Regions from separate parts of the Homo sapiens genome. Here region 1 is linked to region 2. The links come from fine-mapping of genetic effects on gene expression. Tissue or cell type: whole blood. Region 2 holds a variant in brackets; the other region holds the start of a gene. All regions are shown on one strand. Distances are from middle to middle.

Region 1 (2,662 bases), 100 kb before region 2:
GACCACCCAGTAGATAAGGCATGCAGACCCCTCCCCCGACAACTGCTTGCTTCCTTCGCTTTAAAAGTGCCTGCTTTCTGCTCCACAATTGAAGCAGTAGCCTTAGGGAGGAAACCTGTACTTCTTCCCCTAAGCTAGCTTTGGAATACATCACTTTCTTTATACCAGACCTTGCTCTTGTTAATTGGAATCTGCAAGTGGTGAGCGACTAAACCTGCGTTTTGGTTATAAAACTCCAAAGGCCATCTGAAATACTGAGACCTAAAACTTACAATCGAGATGGATAGGGAATTACTTTTTCCTTTACTTCCTTTACTAAATCCCTTTGTCTCCAAATCTATCAAGCAATAGTTTCTTTATCTGCAAACTGTGGATTATGTTACCTGTCTTGTCTGCTTTAGAAGGGAAACAAAAATTATGTAGAAATTAATAGGAATACTATTGAAACAGGAAAGGGACAACTTGCAAGGTTTGAAGCAATCACATGTTGAGTACTCAGTCAAGGCTTTCTTTTTTTTTTTAAATCAAAATGTTGATTGGGATATTTTATGGGTAGCAGGCTTGGATCCCAGCACTTTTCCAATAGGGGAACAGAAGCACCTTGTACCGCCCCAGAGTTTCCCTTCCCCCACACAATAACCCTAAAGCAAAAGCTATTATTATTATCATCGCCATGTGACAGAGGAAAACTTGAGATTGGGGGCTTAACTGACATTACATCAAGTCTCAAAAAGAAACAGTGGCAGTTTGAGACTTTGATCTACGACTCTTTTAAGAGTTTAGATTGCGTCCACAGCGAAACCTGCACAAACAGTTGTCAACAGCGGCTGCAAATTACAGGCTTATGAGGAACGTTTGAAAAATGCCAAGAGTTCTTTCCTCAGGCCAAATACTATGGTAGATAAAAGTATAGCCTTTGGAGCCAGAATCCCTGAGTTTGAATCTTGCCTGTGCCACTTGGTAGCTGTGTGACTCTGGCTGCGTACTTAACGGCTCTGTCTCAGTTTTTCTGTTGGTAAAATGAGGATAATAACACCTTCTTTGTAGGGTTGTTCTAAGGATTAAATGAGTTAATAGGAGTGAGCCACTTAGAATAGGGCCTGTTATATGGTAATCTCTATTTAAAATCCTGTCAGATACACCAAAGAAAACACTTTAAAAATATCTGTTAAATAAATCAGTAAAACAGAATCGGGGCATTGGTTCTTTAAAAGTACTCCCCCACGGTATTCTAGTATGCAGCTTGGGTTTTAATATCTGAATGTGGCGCCTTTTGGGATCTCGCCTCGCGAGAAATTGACATTAACGAATGAGTGAAAGGAGCTTCCCCCCCCCCCCCCCTCCAGGAAGATATAGACCCTGCAAACTTGTTAGCAGGACCTTGCGGACACCAAGGAGGCGGAGGCGTTTTCCCCATTTCCCCTTCGGGAGTTGTAGTTTCCTGCAAGCGCTTGGTGGGTCTGTAAACCAGCGGGGAACTACAACTCCCACAATCTCGCGCGCCTCCCGCCCTGCCTCCCGCCCGCGTTTCTAGCCCGACTCCCATTACCGCCCCTCGGGGGCGGCTGTGGCGGAGGAACGATGGCCGACGGCGGCGGCCCTAAGGACGCGCCAAGCCTGCGGAGCTCTCCCGGGCCGGCGCCGCGGGTCCCGCGCGCGGTCGGGCCGAGTGGCGGTGGCGGGGAGACCCCGCGGACCGCGGCGCTGGCGCTGCGCTTCGACAAGCCCATTAAGCAGGCCTTCTACAACACCGGGGCCGTGCTGTTCGTGTGCCTGTGCTGCGGCGCCGCGGTGCTGGTCTACTTCATCCTGGAGGCCTTCCTGCGGCCGCTGCTCTGGGCCGTGCTATGCGGCACTTTTCTGCACCCCTTCAAGAGCTCGCTGACGCGCCTGGGCCGCCACTGGCTGCAGCGCCTGCACCGCGCGCACACGCCCATCGTCCTGGCCGCGCTGCTCCTGCCGCTCTGCTTCGTCGACTACGGCGTCGAGGCCCTGGGCGAGCAGGCGCTGCGCCGCCGCCGCCTGCTCCTGCTGCTCGGCGCCGGCGGCCCGCTCCTGTACGGCCTCTACTGCCTCGGCAGCTACTTGGGCGTGCAGGTGCTGCTGGTGCACGCTGCCACGCTCATCTGCCGCGGGCTGGACTACTTCAGCAGCCTGTGGGTGAGTGAGCGGCAGTCCGCCCCCGTCCCCCGCCCGTGGTCCCGGCGCTCTGGGGTGCAATCCTGCAGCTGTTCCTCCCGGTGCAGGGGCGACGAGGGGCCACACCTGTGCTGCAGTGACCGTCCGTCTCCGCTTTCCTTCTCACACCTCAGGAATTTGGCGGACATTCTTCCAAAAAGGGGGCGGGCGTGATTTGAAACAGCCTCCCTGCTTTTCGCCTTGTTTCAATCCTAATAGGCCCTCTTAGGGGGACAGTGCCCTGGATTGAGAATCGTTATTTCGCTTTGCAGAGAGAGGCCTCAGAGCATGGCAGTGGGGCTTGGTTTTACTTCTGGTTGGAGAGGGCGGGGGTGCTTCGGCCACCCTCAGTTCTGCGCATCTGAATGTCAGAGCTGGAAGGGACCTTAGAGATTCTAGGCCAACTTGCCATCCTGCAGATAGGAAAGGTGACCTCTTACCAGGCTAGGGCTACTTAGGGACAAAGAGGGGTTTGGGTGTCTTA
Region 2 (2,846 bases):
TGTTGCCCAGGCTGGCCTGGAGTGGCATGACCTAGGCTCACTGCAGCCTCAACCTCTTGGGCTCAGGTGATCCTCCCACCTTAGCCTCCCAAAAGTATAAAAATTAGCCGGATGTGGTGTCATGTTCCCTGTAGTCCCAGCTACTCAGGAGGCTGAGGTGGGAGGATGGCTTGAGCCTGGGAGGCAGAGGTTGCAGTGAGCTGAGATAGCACCAGTATACTCCAGCCTGGGCAACAGAGTGAGACCTTGTCTCAAAAAACAAAACAAAACAAAACAAACAAACAAACAAAAAACCAACTGTAAAGTCAAATATTTTTCTGTATTTCTAATATGTGGACTTATTGTAAAGGAGCAATATAACTTCTATCTAAAAGAATGGTAATAGACTGTGCTTTATATCTGTATCACTGTTGCATAAACATCTGGTCCCAGCCTCTCTCCATCCTGATGTACTGCCAGCCTTGGTGTGAGGCATTTTTGTCTAATATGGGTGCTTGAGCTCATGTTCATTGATAAATTCTGACCTGGCCATTTGGCTGCCAGCACAGATGTAAATTTAGCCAGGTGATTTATCTCAGCTCAGACATGTAAATTATGTAGCAAAAGCAAGCTAGCTACTACAGTACTGAGATAGACACTTCATGTATGCAGCAGTCAGGCACGGTGCTCAGCCACCTTCATCCAGCCCAGATATTACCCGCCAATAACATTGTTCGCTTAGCTTGTTTAATGTGGGTCAGAAACAGTTCAAGTACAAGGTCACTTGATGAAAAGACCTAACCCATTTTTCCTGCACTGAACCACATCCCTTAGAGCTTGGACTCTCTGTTGGATTACGATTTCTATTTTGTAATAAAATGTATCCACTTAGCATTTAATCTTTGGTCTCTTAGTGGTTTTTCCTCTTTAACATCAATCATCATATCCACTTCCAGCCAGTAACAAGGTGGAAGAGCTGAAGAAGATTGCTCTTCTCTTTTAAGGAACTGCCCAGAAGTTGCACAACACTTCTACTTAAATCTCATTAACCAAAGCGTAGTCACGTGGTCATGTGTAGTTTCAGGGGAGTCTGGGGAAACAGTCCTTTGGATAGATCCAGCAAAAAGATGGAGTTCTTGTTAATGAGAATGAGCAACAACTAGCAGACTTTGAAACAATACTCAATGAAAATCTTAAGAAAAAATAGTGACTATATAATCTCATTAGGGCTCCAAAAGATTGTAAAAATAGGATACTGTTTTATGGTAATCAACTAATCATTCCGTCTTTTTTTCTTTTAGGACTTTCCGTGACATTTCTGAAGATCTGAAATCTTCAGTAGGTTGATGTGGTTTCCTCTGCAGTGATTTTTCTAGGAAGTTCAAATTTGACAGCGAGTTCAGCTCAGCTGTGGCCCTCTGCCCTTCCAGCTGTGCCTAGCAAGCAAAACCCAGGAAAGAAGCAGAAGCCTCCTGGCCTTACATACAGAATGCCTGGACAAGAGAGAACTTGCTGCGGGCTGCTTTGTATTTTAAAACACAGCTTGAGAGTTCAG[A/C]GTTGGTGGTTTGCTCACTTAACTGTTGTTAAGATGGCTTGAAAAGTTTCATTTTATACACTGGTACCCTGGCTTGAAATTTTTCCACTTTGGTTATCTATGTTACTATATTATATATTTATAAAGTTATTTTAAGAACTCTAAACTACCTGCTGTTAAAAGAATAGATGGTGTAATTTTTTCCTGGTTTAAGAAATGTATTGTTAAACTTTTCTAAGACAGTCACTTTTCAAGGAAGAGGGCTTTCACTTTTGAGTGTGTAGTTGAGTGAGCAGGAAAAATGAATCTTCTACCCTTCTCCCACAATGTATTATACGCTCTTTAAGAAATAATAAATCATAAGTATAAGGGTGGGGTGGCTTATTTGATGTTCAGTTTTATATTATAACCCTGGGAGATACAAAGACTGAAGCTCTTCCTCCTCTTCCTTTTCTCTTCACGCTTCTTTACACTATTGCCAAATTATAAAACTTGGCTGACCACGTTGAAGTGAAATACTTATTAAGCTGCTATGAATGGTAACAGTATGATAAAATTCATGCTGTTATTAGGTTTTCTCCTTCCAGGTGGTTGAAGTGAAAAATCTCAGGTGTAGCAATACTCTGATTTGTTAAATGTATCCGTTTCATTATTTGGAACTCTGCCAATAAGTTAGTTTTCAGCAGAATTTTGTATTTATGTAGTATTTTCCCATCTCTTAGCACAGTGCCTTGCACATGACTCTAAATGAATGCTTGTTGAATTGAATTGCAACTTTAAAAATATCTCAGATATCACAATAACCAGCATAGTGCTTTACATTTTACAAAGTCCTTTTGCACATACTATTTCACAAGTACATCACATCAGCTTTCATATAGCTTTATATTATTTTACATCAGTTTTACACTGATGGAGAAGCTAAGGTTCAGAAAAGTGACCAACTCAAAGTCGTAAAGTGTAGTAGGATTTGGCCTCAGATCTTTGACTCCGTTGTGTGCAGATTCTGCTGTATTAGTGTTCCTTCTAAATATTGTATGCAGTTTTCCCAGTGTTACGAGATTGGTGTTGCTATCCATTTGTTGTGAATGAAGACTTGTCCTATAGTACATGACAGGGCTGAGAGTGGACTGTAGTTCTTAGCTGAACCCTTTCTACTGTTTAAAACAATCATCAGGCCTATCCTCTGCTCCCAGGGGAATGTGGGAGAGAAAAGGGTTCTTGGCCAGGCTGTAGGTGGTGGCTCACATCTGTAATCCCAGCACTTTGGAAGGCTGAGGTGGGTGGATTGCTTGAGCCCAGGGATTTGAGATCAGCCTAGGCAACATGGCAA

The links. PIP is the estimated chance that this variant, and not a neighbour inherited with it, causes the effect.
Region 1: it holds the start of TMEM245, and the variant in region 2 is fine-mapped to the expression of TMEM245 in whole blood (TOPMed, PIP above 0.99).

The regions. Positions count from the first base shown.
Region 1 is chr9:109,118,833-109,121,494 of GRCh38, reverse strand. It overlaps TMEM245 (transmembrane protein 245), which reads left to right and starts at 1,548. Exons shown (of 18, transcript NM_032012.4): 1 at 1,548-2,160. The coding sequence starts at 1,582. RefSeq lists silencers at 1,399-1,448, 1,589-1,758, 2,109-2,218 and an enhancer at 1,869-1,918.
Region 2 is chr9:109,018,940-109,021,785 of GRCh38, reverse strand. TMEM245 (transmembrane protein 245) reads left to right here. Exons shown (of 18, transcript NM_032012.4): 18 at 1,281-2,846. The coding sequence ends at 1,326. Among named protein-coding and RNA genes, the nearest start is that of CTNNAL1, 6.9 kb to the right of the region's middle. The variant A/C (reference allele first, on the strand shown) is at 1,535.